2 separate regions of the Homo sapiens genome follow, and region 2 is linked to region 1. The links come from fine-mapping of genetic effects on gene expression. A gene starts in region 1. The other region holds a variant in brackets. All regions are shown on one strand. Distances are from middle to middle.

Region 1 (8,332 bases):
AGATGGAGCTCTCTCAGGGATCGAGGCAGGGGACCGGGCATCCGGGTCAGGTTGTTGTGGTCCAGGTACAGCCTCTCCAGGTGCCTCAGCTTGGAGAAGACCTTCCTGCCCACCTTATCACTGGTGATCTGGTTGCCGTGGAGAGCAATCCAGAGCAGCCCTGTGGCATTGTCAAAGACGCCTTCCTGGATGGAGGTGATCTGGTTGTTCTGGAAGTACACATACTTCATGCGGGAGGGAACGAAGGGCAGGTACTTGAGGTTGCGATTGTCACAGTACATGGCCGTGGGGAAGTTGGGTGGGCAGTCGCACTCCTGGGGGCAGTCGCGGGGATCTGGAGGGGATGGAGAGCCGTAGGTGTAGGCTGGCCCTTCATCCACCCCATAGGGGTAAGGCTCGTAGGTCTCATACGGGTAAGGGTCATAGGGATCGTAGTAGGTGGACTGCTGGCTGCGGAGGTAGTGGAACCACCAATGAGGGTCATCTTCATACTGGGCCTGGGAGAGGGAGAAGAGCCCTGCCAGCAGCAGGAGGGAGGTCCACTGCATTTTGTCTCTGCAAGAAGCGGGAGAGAACAGAGCAAGCCAGCATGAGTGAGACTCCACAGAGGCAGTGAGGCAGAGTAGGCAAGCCTTAGGCTTTGAGCTATGCAGAGCTGACTTCCATGTCAAACATCTGAGAGCAGGAGCCTTGCTCTCATTTCTTCGGTGCCTCCTCCCAGTCTGGTTCTGCACTTGGTCCAGCCGGACCATGGCTATTTGGGGTGAGCTAAGTGCATTTTCCCCTGGTCATAGAGTCACAGACAGAATGTCTTTGAATGGGAACAGCTGCATTTTTTTTTTGGAGGGGCAGATTCTTAGGAGCCTCTAGCACTCTGAAAGTCCTGTGGGAAAGCTGAAAAGCCCACAGCAATCCCTGTGTTTGTGGTGTGGTGGTAAGGATGGTAGTGGGATGCTCTTCAGATCTGAACCCAAATCCAGTTTGGATGTTCCGGGGAAATAGTATTTTTCTAAGAGTCCAAGGAGAAAGCCCTAGGATGGGAGACCTCCAGAAGCCGCTTGACGCATCGAAGGGGAAGAGCTGAACTACATCTGGAAAATCTTTTGGTCTCTTGGGCAGGCTGGGAGTTTTTGGTCTTGAGTGTTTGGGGAGGAGTGTGGTCCCTCTGCAGCCACCACAAGGCTCAGGTTGCCCTCCAAAGTGCCATCATCTGTAACAGTCTGCTGAGTGAGGAAACTCACTGGTTAGCAGTTTGTGGCTACACATGCAACTTGGCTGGGACAGGGTCTTCATGCAGCAGTTACAAATCCTTTCCAGACTGAGGACCCTGGCACTGGGTGTGGCACTTGCCTTCTAAAGCAGGTACTCAGTGTGTGAAGTCTGAGTTAATCTGCTTCTCTCTTCCATGGTGCCTAGTAAGGTGTTAGCACTCCTCATGCTCCACCATGGGCATCATGCAAGAGCCATGTGGGGCCAAGAGAAATGAATGAGGGACACCAAAAGAATAGCTAGAGATTGGAAACTCTTGTGTATGCTCAAGGGAAAGCAGCTTGAGGTAGGACCCTGACATTCTCCTCTCCTTTCCCAAGCTACCTGCTCCCAGCGATGACACCTAGATGACCAGGCTCTGTGTCTAGGTCCCCACATTGCTGGAAACCTGTTGCTTTTGAACCTGTTGTGCTAATGAGATAGGAACAGGGCAGACTGAAGAGGAAATGTGGGTCTGATGTCATCTGAGAGGGAAACTAAAGGTATGGAAGGTAAGAGACTAGGGGTGGCCTGGGTACCCTACCCTGGTTACCTATAGCCAATGCATGACATACTCCTGTGAGCAGTGGGCATCTTCCTGAGTGTCACCCTTGGACAGAGAAACCTTAGAATCTTTCTTGGCCTGGAAGAGTCACATACAGCCCTCACATTGCTGTTGGGCCTACTGGGGTTGGCAACTGTAAACAGAAGAAAGAAAGGAGTATAAAAGCCAACATCATCAGATCCAGTGAACTGATGGGAAAGACCCCAACTATGACACTCAACAGAGTTACCTCCTGACCACCATCCATCCCAGACCTCTCTGTCCCCTCAAAACAGTTTCCTTGGGCCCACTTCATCCCATCAGTTCCTAGGTTGCAGAGGAGCAGGCACCCTGGCTCATCCACAGGCAGCCTCAGGCCTCAGACAAAGAGCCACAGTGTTTTGGAGAAGCTGACCCAACTGCCCACTGCCTGGGCAAGCTGGCTGGTTCCTGGCTCTGGCCAGGAGAGAAGACGAATGGAGCGGCCCACTGCCAACAGAGCATTTTTCCATGCACAGCCCTGGGCTGTTGCAGGACCAAGGTGGCTGTCTGGAGGGCTGGCACAGTGAGCCTCTGTCTCCGTTTCTCCTTCTTTCAGACTGGGCACCTTGGCAGACAAGAGCCACCTTCCCCTTCAGACTCAGCTTTCTAGGGGCTGTGCACCCTGCCCACTTCAGCCTCTTCTTAGAGCCATGGGTGCTGAAAGGGTTTGATGGGGAGCTTATGCCTCTCCTTACCCCATCCCATCTCTTAGCAATGTTGCTTCAGGGTTGCATAGTCTTACACTGTTTCCCATAATGCTAGAGGCCCTCCTGTGCTCAGAGTTTCTGTAAGGTCGAAAGTTTCCAGGACTGCCACACTATCAGCTGGGGGAAGTTTACTCAGGAGCTACTGCTGTTCTTTCATTTCTCCACTCTAGAGAAAGATCTCTCCCTCCTATCAGTGGAGAAGGTCAAGCCAGAGGCCATCCCCTCACCTGGATTGCATCCCCACCCCAATCCACAGCTCCCTGGACATGGCCAGTTCTCAATGCTTCTTTTTATTCTCTCCTTTCCACTCCAAACACACACACACACACACACACACACACATTCTACACAAAAGTTTCCCCCTCTCCCATAATAGCATTTATGTACCAAACCCCTCTATAAGAGAGATTGCAGGGACATCCAGGTCTTGGAATACCCTTCAAAATGCCCACACTCCCAGCATGATGGGATTTATGAGTAGCAGGGAAGAAGCTTCCCTAGACAGAGGGTCCTTCACTTTTTCATGCCTGAGAATTGGAGGTCCCCTCAGCACCCATAAAGGAACTGTAAGAGAAAGGTACAGGGCTGGAACCCCTCCCTTATACACCCTCTCTGCCACTCTCCAGCATCCCTGGGGTCATGGCCCAGATGTGGAGAAGGAGGAATGAACCCTCCCTGCCTCCCCATCTCCCCTATCCCCTACCACTTTTCCTTTATTTCTTTTAAGGAACTGCTAGGGACAAACCCGAAGTAAAACGACTATACTTACCTCAAGTTGAACTTTTCAGAGAGTGACCACGTCCCTCTGTCTGGCCTCCTTGGGTTGGAGAACGTGTGAGAGAGGAAGAGAGAGAGGAGTGAAAGAGTCTACTGAGAGTGTGCGTGCCTGTGCCAGACCAGGGTCCCGCCCCAAATTCCTAATCAAATATTGTGAAAAGGGGCTGAGGAACCCGGATCCTGGTTTTTTTCAGCTCTGCTGCAGGGGCGGAGTTCACGCTCAACCACGCAAATCCTTCGGTCCGCCTGACGCTATAAAAACCACCTTTTTTCCACTCACTTATCTTCCCTGAAACATTGGCAGCCCTGGGTCCCTTTCTGCTGAATGAGTTAGTGGCGCCCTAGAAGTTATTTGTACAGTCTCTTATGAAGCGCCTGGATTTCTCATTAAAGCCACAAAGGCAGATGCAGGGATGGGGAGGGCCAGGGTTTGGTAAGAGACATCTTAACTCCTTCAGCAACCCACATGTCCCTCCAGAGAGCGAGAACTCGCGCTTCTCAGCTCCCCCTATAGACAGGTCATCAGGCTAGTGGATAAGGGAGCATGAATGACAAGGGACAGCCGGCTCTGGTTCCAGTTCTATCCCTAAGCAGTGTAGACTTTTCTAGGCTACAGGTCCTGCCCACCTCCACCACTGGAACAAAAGGAAAGGCAGGGACTCCAGCATTTGCTGATCACTGCTTATGCACTAGCATCATCCACTTCCACTTAATGCTCACAACAAATTCAGAGTTAATAACACTTACCTTGCTGGGTTGTAGCAAGGACTGTATCAGGTGATGTGTGGGAGGCTCCTGACCTGGCACATAGCTGAGGTTCACTGTGTCCTACCCATTTCACAGCCATAGAATTCCTCAGCCAGGGAAAGACAAGATCAGAAAGCTGGGCAGGAGCTGTACCATGAAAGGACTTTTGGGCGATGGAAGTGATTTGGTTTTTATTCTAAATGTTTTTGTTGTTGTTGTTGTTGTTTGTTTGTTTGAGAAGGAGTCTCAGCTGGGCGTGGTGGCTCATGCCTGTAATCCCAGCACTTTGGGAGGCCGAGGCAGGAGGATCATGAGGTCAGGAGATCGAAAAGGAGTCTCGCTGTGTCGCCCAGGCTGGAGTGCAGTGGCACAATCTCTGCTTTCTGCAACCTCCGCCTCCCAGGTTCAAGCCGTTCTCCTGCCTCAGCCTCCTGGGTAGCTGGGACTACAGGCACACGCCACCACGCCCAGCTAATTTTTTGTATTTTTAGTAGAGACAGGGTTTCATCATATTGGTCAGGCTGGTCTTGAACTCCTAAACACAGGTGATCCACCCACCTCAGTGCCCCAAAGTGCTGGGATTACAGGCGTGCGTCATCCGGTCCGGCCTATTCTAAATGTTTAAAAAAAAAAACATGTTTCAAGCAGGAGAAGCCATGGGATCTGATTTGCATGGGATCTAATTTACATTTTAAAAGCATGTAGGAGGGGCTGCTGTATGGAGAAGGGGAGGCCAGGGTGGAAGCAGGGAGGCTCCAACCCAGCCTCAAGGAGAGGTAATGGCAGATTGGACTGGTGCAATGGAAGAGAAGATCTTATATTTTAGACAGAGAACTGACAAGTCTTGCAGAGTTAGGAAAAGTCAAGGATGATTCCTAGAATTTTAGTTTGAGCAACTGGGTAGGTGGTGGTAACATTTCTTGACATGGGAAAGGTGACGTGGGACTGAGTTGGGTAGAAAACCAAAGTTACATTTTGGATATGCTGTTAGAGATGCCTGCTAGGCATTCCCCTGGAGATGCACGTAGACCGTTGGACATATGAATCTGAATCTGGAGTTTAGGGGCTGGAAGAAAACATTTGAGAACCATTATAATGTGGGTCACACAGAATCTCAATAGCTTAGATAAACTCATGTGTCCTAAATGTTCTCTCCTCAAGTATGTTAACTGGCTTATGCCAACATCAAAGAAACACCTTTATCTTAAAAAAATACCAACTGAGAAACCCTGAGATGACTTGAATTTGAAGAATTTAGAAGTGTCGAGGCAGATGGTCCTTTTGGTTTCTCCAATAGGTTTGAGCTTTTGACTTAGCGTGTGGGCTGTCAGAAAGGGCCTTGTCAGGGACCCATTCTCAGAATTTAAGAAGAGATTTCAAAAAGATGAAACCTAATGAATGAGCCTTTTCTGACCACCTACTATAGACTAGGTGGTTTACTTATGTTATCAAAGATAACAGTAGATATTTTGCATTGGAATTAGTGTTTTTTTTTCAAAGCTACTTTTAATACTTTGGGGTGAGCCCCACAGGAATAAAAAAACACTGGGAAGGGGTAACCTCCCACCCGCCACTTCCAGGAGGGGCCAGGGGGAGAGAGGCTACGTGAGGGGAAGGAAGCACAAAAGGGACCCGCTGCAGACTCAGGGCAAAAGGAGGCCATGGGTGCGGGGACCTGCGGGCACTGCAGGAGGAAACGTGAGGGTGGTGGGACTGGCTCCAGTCACATAGGCGAAGGGCAGGAGGGTTGGACATGAAGCCACAAAGCTACTCGGGTTCCTCCTTCTTCTCTTTTGCCTTCTTCTGCTCCTGCTGCTTGGTCTCTGAGCTCCTCTGCTTGCCGCAGCAGCAGAAAGCCCGTCATCTCGACGTTTTCCCTTAACTGAGTCACTCTGCTTTTTCCTATTTTTCTAGCCAGTAAGCTCATGCTGGTTACTGCGGGTCATGGTGACAGCAGTGGCTCCGACCTGCCTCTGTTATGTCACCTCATTCTGTCAGGATTTTTTTTTTTTTATTTTTGACCCTGCTTTCAGCCAAGGAATTAGGGTTTTAGTGATATAAAGTGACTAGCTGGTAAGTGGCAAAACAAGGATCTGAACCTTGGTCTACATGACTTGAAAGCCCACACACTTTTCTCTAACTCTAGCACAGAGGATTGGCAAAGTGGAGGGGCAATGACTACCCTGCTGTCAGGCTGGCCTCGACTAAGATGAAGCTTAATTAATTACGATTGACCAATCTGCCTGAATCTGGGGGCAGGGGGGTTTTAAAGTGAGATGGGGCTGGGGTATAGGGGTTCTCTTCCTCATCCCACCCATATTTCATTTCCGTTTAATAAATTTGAGCATCTACTATGTGTTGGGCATGATCCTAAGTGTTGGAGACACAAAGAAGGCTTCGGTATAATGCCTGATTATAATAAAGCAGATCTGAATGTAGCAAACTCTGACCTCATGAGTGAAGCAGAATGGCCTTACTGTGAAAATGCTTATGAATAATGCACAGATAACTTTCTAGTCATTTTTGAGTCCAGAAAGCAGTCACCTTTCAGTGGAGGACACTGATCTTGGCAACCGAGCCTGGGAAACACTTTTAAATGAGCCTAGATAGCCTGGACAGATTCACCATTGGGTACAGATGTTTATTTTTTTAAATTCCAGCATGCTGACTAATTCTGCATTTACTAACAATGAAAGTTACTAAAGTCTGGGAACCAAATAGTGACTGGATTCTTCCCAACCGGGCACCACCAAAAAGACAGTATCTCCATGGGGTTTTTTGGCCATTTCTAAAGTGGTGAGATGTGCACCAGGTCTTTAGCTATCCATCCTGTTCCAAGGCAGGCCTGGGATGAAGGAAGGATGGAAGGGATGATTGGGACCAGGTCAGAAGGCAGAGTTTCAGGGAACCACCCACTGTTCAAAAGTTCTTTTCTCTAACCTTTAGTGGAGGTTTCTACCTCCATTTTGGCCACTGCTGCTTTGTTTGCCTGGTTCCTGGATCTAGGCCCTCAGAGCTTGCCTTCAACATGGGAAGCCAAGAATGAGATATTGATGTCCACCAGATTGCTTGCTGAGGGAGTCCACATGTGAAGGAGGACACCAGTATCTTCTAGGGGGTGTCTAGCCAGCACTATGCAGTCACTAGACTGAAAATAAACTAAAGAGAAAGGCAATGTCATGCATTTCTGTAGCCCCTGTCCCAGCTGGGCACACAATGCGTTGGCACTTAGTAGGCAATCAGTAAAGGGTTATGAAAGGAATTGTATTTTTGGCTCCCCACAGAGTATGTCTGTCTTCAGTACTCAATGCTGGGTGGAAAAACCACCACCAACCAGGCCAGGAAAACCTTTAGACTTTCCAGGGGTTCAGGCCACTGCTATTTCCTCCCTACCCAGAAAAGTACAGGTTAAGCCACAATCACTAGGCAAAGCTCATTGCCTCTGATGCTGGACCCACCCTGTCTGGGAGAAATGAAGTCCCTTCTGACTCAAGTTCCCACCAGCAAAGACACAGTGACGTTCTTGTGGCCACCAACCCTTTTCTTCCTCTTCATCCCCCACAAGACTCAACAACCCTTGTTTTTATGATCCAGCCTCTGATCCCAGATAACTCAGGGAAGGTGGAGGGCAAGAGGGTGTGACTGAAAACCCACCCAACCAGATTTCTTGAATTGAATATACAGAGGTCAGCAGAAAGATGACCATGGCGATATTATATAATCCAGACCCCGCTGCTGGCCCATCCTGAAAACTCTTGACGCCAGCGAGGGAGTTTTTCCTAGTCTGATGTTTCAATGGAAATTCTTGGCTACATTGGCACCCAACAATGGTGTCCCAAAGCTTCCAAGAGAGATATTTTCTCCTATTCCCTTGGCACCAAAGGGCCATTAGAAGTCCTCATCATGGAGAGTGTCCTCTTTCCAGAAGGATGAGAGCCATGAAGATGTTGGAGCTGGAGAAAGACTTGTTTTCTTTGAACTGCAATAGGAGAAAGACCTCAACTTCCAAGTTCTAGAAGATGCCTGAGGGCTTATAATTTCCTTTTAGCAATAAGCTGCTTAAAAAGAAGGTAGAGAACAACCTTTCTCTTTTAATGGATAGCATCTCTTATTTTTACTGTGTGTTTACTGCATGCTTGATATTGTTAACATGATGATGACATGATGGATCCCAGAAGACCACTTTCTAGAAGGTATGAGTGTATTTGAGTCAGGAAAGGGGGGCCGTTCAGGGAGAGATACCTGAATAAGGAAGGAGGCAGAGGGG
Region 2 (8,332 bases), 240 kb before region 1:
TCAGCCAGTCACCTGAGGGAACTGCCAGCCCTGGATCACAAGAAAGCAAATTATTGGCTTTAGGTTTCTAGAACCAGCAAGATAGTGTGAATTTGTACAGCAAAGCTACATAAGGGCTAGCTGGTAGTTGTTAATTTTCAGGGGAGATGTTTTTCTCCCTTCTATTCAGTGTCAGGTTTAAGGCAGGCAGGTGGGGCACTGATTTATTTTGAATTCACCATTAGACTGAATTGTAGCCTTTGGGTTTCAGGTTTATGGGTTGATGCTGGGGGTATGGTCCCCTACTGGACTTCCCACTGTTGACAAGCCCCCTCGGTTTGTGGAAATTGAAGCTCAATGTAAAGGCTGACATCAGTATAAGGCTTACCTCTCTGGGTGCCTGCTTCTCATGATTTTAGGCTTTTGAATTTACCTTTCATTCTTTTCCAGTTTATTAATGCATTTACAAAGAGGTTTTAAATCTTTTGTCTGAATATTTGTTGTTGTCTTTACTGAGAGAACTAATCAGTAAACTACTCCACTATACTTCATAACTGAAGTCTGTAATGTTTGAAAACAATATAGTTTTCTATATTAGTGAAGCTAGCTGAACAAATTTATGGTTTGTTAACAACAGTACAAAAGCAGTTGAATTAACACAATTTATGTAAACATGCACTCTTACTGGCCCATGCTAGATGTGGGTCAATTTTGAGAACATCAGTGAAGTCCACAAGGACAGGTACTTAACAAATGGCGCCATGGAGTGTGCTTAGTCGGGGTACATCTCAATACATGTCCCACATTTTCATCACTGTGATGGTTCTCAGTGCTGATCCCAATCGCTTCATGAAAAAAGAGAAAATGGACCCAAACATTCCCAATGTTAGACCACTGACCACTACGACATTTCGGGCTCTGGGATTTATCCAGTGCTTTGTAAAATTCTAGGAAAACTGAGTCTTCTTGGTGAGCGTAATTCACTTTCAGCTTAGTAAGTTCCCTGGAAATGAGACCCCACTGATAGGGAGGAAGCCTGGTTATTTATTATAAATACATTCTCAAGTTTATACATAAAGTGGTTAAGAGCACTCAAGCCAGACTACCAGACTTGGAGTCTAGGCTCCCCCACTTAAAAGTGGTTGCCTCTTCCCTGTGCCTCAGTTTTCTCATTTGTGAAATGGGGATAATACTAGAAACTATCCCGCAGGTTTGTTGTAAGGCTTGAATGCATGAGTACGTGTGAAACACCTGGAATGTACCTGGAACACAGAGGTGAACTTCAAAAAGGTAAGCATACAGAAACTTAGAGCAAGATTCAGACTTAACAAAACCTGAGAATTTATCCTAAAATATGACTTTATGTCCATCACATAGCATTGCATTCATTGCATTGCTTTCTTTTCTTTTCTTTCTTTCTTTTTTTTTTTTTTAAAGACGGTCTCACTCTGCCACCTAGGCTGGGGTGCAGTGGCACAATCGTAGCTCATTGCAGCCTTGAATTCCTGGGTTCAAGCAATCCTTCTGCCTCAGGCTCCCGAGTAGCTGGAACTACAAGCACACACCACCATGCCCAGCTAATTTTTAAATTTTTTTGTAGAAACAAGGCCTATGTTGCTCAGGCTGGTCTTGAACTCCTGGCCTCAAGTGATCCTCCTGCCCTGGCTTCGCAAAGCATTGCAATTACAGGCATGAGCCACCGTGCCTGGCCTGCATTTCTTTATGATTAGTGATTTTATTGTGCTCAGAATAGTCAAACAGTAAGAAATGAAAGCAGGTTCCAGTAGTCAGTCACCTTGTCCATGTGGGCAGCTTAAGTTCAACCCGGACATCGACATTGTTTCAAACAAGATTAGAGTGTTTACAAGTCTTGTCACATCAGTAAGACCTGAGGTCTGATGTGTTGGGGCCTTCAAAGCCTTTTAATTCTCCATGGTCCTTCATCTGGGGAATTAGTTCAGTAAATATTTCTAACAAGTTTCCATGACTACACCACCCAACAGCATCAACATAAACAATGTCTCCACACTCTGCTTCATCTTCCAAAATTTCAGTAAACACAATAGTTGAAGCATGAGAACAACAACAACAAAAAACTTCACAATTTTGGTGGCTTCCTTTATGATATGATGCAATGAACGTGATTTGCAATGTGCACAGTTTATACTCTTCAAATGAATAATATGGTGCAAACTCTTTGCATGGGAAGAAACTGCTGAGACCCCTCTTCCCCCATCTCTCCCCTCATTGCAGGTGTCCTATCTGCTAGCAGTGAGCTCAGTTTTTGCATGTTTATAGCCACACTCTCTTTTTAACAAGCTCTTCTTAGTTTTGGTTACGTTCTCGTTTTGTCAAGTCTCCTGTGACCTGCCTTTCAGGGCCAGGAGTCGCATGTTCCTCCCTGGTCTCATGGAGGAAGGGAGAGAGGCACCTTCCTAAGTATGAACCTTGCTTTACGTTTCTGAATTTTTCTTGTTTTCTTTGTTAATATTTGTTGAGCATTTACTATGTGTCAGGCACTATTCTAGGTGCTTTTCATGTAATTCATTCTGTCGGGAAGGCAACAAGCTCCTTAAGCTACATTTGCCTTTTTTGAATGGGTCAGGAGCAAAGGAAGAGTGAGAGGCCCAAATAAAAATTATTATCTGCCTCTAGACATGTGCTGGACATGGCCTTACTCTGTGCCTCCTGTCTCTGTGGATGGCTCCACTCTTCACTCACCATGGGAGGCAGAAACTTAGAAGTCATATGAGACCTTCCTCCCTTCCCACAGCCCATCAATTCCTGGTCTCACGGCCGCAGCCCCATTGGCTTATCTCAATCATAGCTATTTTCACATTGATCTGTAACCCTCTGTCTTCCCTGTTAGGACACAGACTCTCTTTGATCTCTGAATACCCAATTCCATAGCAGGCCCTCCAAAGACACTGGCTGAATGAATGAACGAATGAAGTTCTGTCGTTTCTACCTAAGAATTTCTTGAGTTATCCTTCTCCCCTCACCCCATTGACTGCCCAACATAGGGTCCTACTCTTCTCAACAGAACTCTTACAGTAACTTCCTAACTGATGTTCCCTCTCTCCACTTTGCCCTATTCCCACTCACTTTCCTCATTGTCTTGAGGGTTATCTCTCTAAAGGACAAATCAGAGTGTGCCTTTGCTCTGATTAAACCCTTCAGTGCTTCTCATTGCCCTGGGGATAAAGTCAAGGCATCATCTCTTGTCTCTGTCTTTCCTGAGCCCTGTGTCTAGCCATATGAATGGTAGTGTACGTGGTATGGGTGTGTATTTAGGCCCCAGTTCCTCTGCACGTGTGCCTTTTACCTAGGATGTCACTGCCTTTTCTCTGCCTGGAAATCTCCTGTCCATCCTTTGAGCCCCAGCTCAAATGTCCTTTGATCTGTGAAGACTTCTGGGACCCTACAGCCTCCACCTTTAGAGGATTAGATCTCTATTTGAGCATTTGTGGGCTGGCTGTCATAGTTTGCTCACGTATCTATGCCTCCATCTCTCCCCACCTGACTAGATTTTCAGTCCCTGAAGAGCACAGTCCTGAGCTCGGTATCCCTAGCTCCTTGGCAGGCTTCAAAGAATACAAGAGGGAAGGAGGAGGGAGATCCCATCTTCTATGAACAGTGAAAACTGTTGTCGATCCAAAGG[G/T]TCTGGAAGAAAAGCCTGCATCGACCCTGTGACTGACAGATCTGCTGAAGACAGCCCAGCCCTCAAACGTAGGCTTGACGCCAACCTCCTTCTTCTCATCTCCCTTCTTCAACCCTCTCCTCTCATTCCTTCCTTCACGCCCTTCTTCCCTTCCTCCCTTTTCCCTCTTTCTGTTTTATTCACTTTCCTTTCCTGCCTTCTTTCCATTGCTGTTTCACTTTGGCATTAATCATATATTGCACAAACCATATTATAGCAATATTAATGGAAGTAAGTAAATAATAGTGCCCCCACAATTCTGCTACTCCAACAAATCAGATTGGTTTCATTTGTCTATATTGCCTTCCCATGTCTGTATGCCCACATCATTTTGCATAGTTGTCATCATAATGTAGTTTTAATTTTGTAGTCTACTTTGTAACTTAATATCAGAAGCATTTTCCATGCTCCTGCATAATCTTCACAATTATTATTGTAATGGCTGAGTAATATTCCATTGAATGGATATGCCAAGTTTTACTTAACTGTTTCCTTTCTGTTGGACAGTTCCAGTTTTTCCCTGTTGCAGAGAGTGCTGTAATAAATAAGCATGTTCTTTTACTTCTTTCTCTTTCTTGCTCCTTCTGTTCCCTTTTTTTTTTTACCTTTTTCTCTCTTCACTTTTTTTTCTTGTATCTCCTTCTGCCTCCTTGACTGCAGCTCTCTCTCCTACAGCAATAATTTGCTTCTGAGTGGATACAGAAATCATCATAGTGGGACCTAGGGTTTTGAGAAAAATTACTAAAAATTTGTAATAAAATGTTCCCAAGGACACTTTTGTTACATTTGTGCCCTTAAAAAGAATTAAATGATAAATCTTTTTGTTCACAAGAGGTAGGAACACAGGACCAGGTGGGACCAGGTAAGACCAAATTGGAGAAGGCTAAAATCTGTGACAGGGACATGTTTATTTGTAGTGGGAGAAAATGAGACACAAATGCCTATCAATAGGGAAATGGCTAAACAAACTATGATGTGTTTATGCTAGAATTATGTATCATTTAGAGATTGCAGAGCTAGATGTACTGACTTGATAAGACTTTTTTAGTGAATCTAGCTGCAGAATATTTGTAGTTTACAATTCATGTAAAAAATAACAAAACCCAAACCCATGATAGTACTACATTTTTTTTGAATATATATATATTTGCATATATAAATGTGTGTATAGGGGTATATACATACTCTTATTTATATGTAATGTAAACATACTTGTGTGTAAATGTACATATACACACACACTTATATTATGCAAATACATAGAAAAATTCCTGGAAATATACACATCAAACTGGTAACAATGGTCACCTCTGCGTTTAGATGAAAGGGTCTTGATTTAGGGAACTGGTTAAATGGAATTTGAGCCTGAACTACAGTGGTTTCACTTTTTTATCAAGGAAAGCGCATTCACATATTGTTTGTATAATGAAACATTAATTGAAAATGTTGCCACTGTTGTGTCTTTCTGCTTACCATCTTGCACTGACCAGCTTCTGATTTAGGGGCTTGCCATCAACAAGTGAAATGTAATAGGAGAATGCTATTAAATATGCAAATGTCCTTTGGGAAGTGTGGGCTTTTTGCTTTTTCAGTTGTAATGTTGGTCTTTTAAGACAGTGCTGGTGGGCCTGGGGCAGGGGAGAACAAGGCCTGCTCTTCCAGGAGATAAGGAGCCCCCCAAATCAGGCATCATCCCAGCCAGTCCTTCCCGCCCTCTCCTGGCAGGTGGAAGTTGGCGGGGGTTGAAGTGTAGTCCCTTGCACTGAGTCCTGGCTGGAGGACAACAGATGGGGCCACACAGCCCTGCTGCTCAGACCGAGGGGAACAGGTGGAGGTTCCAGGGTCAGAGTGTGAATGCTGGCGATTCATGAGTGGTGCAGGTGGGCAGAGTGCCAGCTCAGGGGCAGCGACAGCTGGGCAGCATGTGGGCAGGAGAGGGAGTTGGGCAACGGGGCTGGGAGACTGGGTGGGTCCAGCCATGGAGGAGGAGGTACTAGAGGCCAGAGAACAAGAGAGGGAAAGAGGGGGAAACCCCCTCAGGCTGGACAGGAGTGAGGTCAGAGGTCCCTGGCTGACCTGAGAGGCTTAGGAAGCTGCAGGGTGAGTGGACATGCTGGTAGAGAAGGGTGCCCCTGCTCTGCCTCCTCTCACGTCTCCTTTACCCCCAGCTGTCCCCTACCTAGCCCTAACCTGAGGCATTTGGGCCATTGCAGCAGCTGTGCCAGCCCTTTGGCACTGTCAGGGCATGGGCAGGGGAGGGACGCAGCTGCCACCCACCCCCTTGCAGATAGGGGGTGGGAACGCAAGGAGGTGGCCAGGTTGGAGAAGACTCAAGCACGTGATGGGGCACTGCACTTTTCTCTCCAGAACTACCTGCCCATGTACCCTTCACCCCATTCTCTTTAGTTAGGTGTTAGGGTAGGAAAGGTAATGATCATTATTAGCATTTACCAAACACTCGCTGTAATGCAAGGCACAGTGCTGTTGATTGTATAATGTATCACTGAATCCTCCCAACAGCCCATTAGGAAAGTATTATAATTTCTATTTTACAGATGAGAAAACGGAGGCTTCTTGGTTCAGTAATGTGCACAAAGTCACACACTAAGAAGAGACATAAGTGAGATTTCATGCCAGATTTTTTGGCACTAGAGACCAAACTTAAAACCTTTGAGGAGTATTGAAATAACAGAGAGTTCCATGCCCAGTCGAGGGCCAGCCGTCCCCCAACAAGGGGTAACTTCTGGACGTGGTGGATGGGTCTAAGTTAGCCCTCCTCACTGTGGGAATTGTAGAGCAGCCAGATGAAGTGGGGTGAAAGTAAAGGAGCTGGAAGCCCGGGCCCGGTGACTCACGCCTGTAACCCCAGCACTTTGGGAGGCCGAGGCGGGTGGATCACCTTAGGTCAGGAGTTCAAGACCAGCCTGGCCAACGTGGTGAAACCCCGTCTCTACCAAAAATAGAACATTAGCTAGGCGTGGTGGCAGGCACCTGTAATACCAGTTATTTGGGAGGCTGAGGCAGGAGAATCGCTTGAACCCGGGAGGCGAAGGTTGCAGTGAGCCAAGACCACGCCATTGCATTCCAGCCTGGGCAACAAGATCCAGAGAGGAGGGAAGTGTTCTCTTGGGGCTGGGTTAGATTTGCCTGGAAACGGGAGGAGACAATGCTATGGGAACAAAGCACTTTGGACTGGACGTCAGGAGAGCGAATCTGTCTCTTCCCTCCAAGGGAGCGGGTCTGCTGGGCCTTCTTAGGCGCCGTCCCTTTTGGCCTTTCTGCAGGTGAGCTCAGGAGAGGCTCGGGCAGGTGGGGAGCTGAGGCGCTGCCTGTTTCGTCTGTTCTGGCCCATGATGTCGGGTGAAGCATCTCAGCTGAAGCCTTGCGCAGTGCTCCGCCAGGCGCTATAATGCTGAGCCCAGCTATGGCTCCTCCTTCTTCTCCCTTCCGCGGGAACCCAGCACCTAGCGCGGCGGAGCAGGGAACTCAGGCTGCGGGACTGGGGTCTGGCCCTGCCCAGCTCCTCGCCCACGCCCAGGCTTCCGTTAGGCCAGCAGGGGGACCCCGAGCCCCGGACAACAGCCCTGAGCTGGGCGGCTGCTTCTGGCTCTAGATCCCGCTGCTCAGCCGATCCACCTTCCCCACCTCCCTCCCCCCAGCCTCAGTTTCCTCCTCTGAGAAATGGGAAAATGATTATACTTATTTCACCGGCAATGCTATGATAGTTAAATAATTCTAAACCATAAAGCGTTGTGAGACTTCCTTCTTGTACTCTTGAAGTGTATTATTTTGAACATTGAACATTCAGTCAATGTTTCTTGAGCTCTATGCCCCGGGAGCTATTTTAAGCCCTGGATGAAGTCTGTCCAACTCGGGCCGGGGATAGTGATTGAAATAGAAAAGCTCAGTAAGTGAAGGGCTCCTCTGTGTCTCCCACCCCACTTGACGAGCCAGATGGAGTGAGTGGCTTTTAACTGTAGAGTGGACCCCTCTAGCAAGCTGCTGTTTGCTTTTCTGGTGTGGAAGGTAGGACTTTGGGATGAGCCCACAGAGGACCAGGGAGCCCAGGCCATCCACTACCTCTTTATCCCGACCTGAGGAACGTGCACTTAGCGCAAATTCCCTTCCTTCCATGCCCAGTGCTCGCTGGTGACAGGGTTCAGGGCAGAGGGGGTGAGGCAGATCTGAAGGGAATGATTCTAGACTAGCACTTTGAGTTCTGCTTAACATCAGGGAGTTGGGGCCAGGATAAGACTGGAGCTGAGGGAATGGGCTGAAGCCGGAATCAGTGGCCAAGCCTCTGTGACCAGTTCTGATTCCTGAGTATAATGAGTGAATGCCTAGTGTTTCCACACCTGGCTTCCATCGCTGCTGGGAGGGGCTTCACTCAGAGAAATAACTATGAGAATGTGTACATGGTGGGCTCTCCTGCAGGCTCTCAGGGGACCCAGGGATACTGGCTGAGGACAGGGGCCATTTCATCCCAGTTAGCTTTTTACTGAGTGGAGCAAAAACTCGTTCCTTCCATGAAGCCTCTGGCTTCAGTCTCAGCCCTTACACCCCAGGACATGGTCCATGAAGCACCTAGTTAGGACTTCAGAAGGATGAGGTGATGGTTCACGTGGAAGATGTTGCTTTTCAGTTCCTTCTGTT

What was found. PIP is the estimated chance that this variant, and not a neighbour inherited with it, causes the effect.
Region 2: its variant is the best candidate, but not a certain one, in a credible set for the expression of FMOD in minor salivary gland (GTEx, PIP 0.87).

Annotation. Positions count from the first base shown.
Region 1 is chr1:203,347,723-203,356,054 of GRCh38, forward strand. It overlaps FMOD (fibromodulin), which reads right to left and starts at 3,400. Exons shown (of 3, transcript NM_002023.5): 1 at 3,311-3,400; 2 at 1-555. The coding sequence starts at 548. It also overlaps the pseudogene LOC100131747.
Region 2 is chr1:203,110,760-203,119,091 of GRCh38, forward strand. No RefSeq gene overlaps it. Among named protein-coding and RNA genes, the nearest start is that of ADORA1, 13 kb to the right of the region's middle. The variant G/T (reference allele first, on the strand shown) is at 3,641.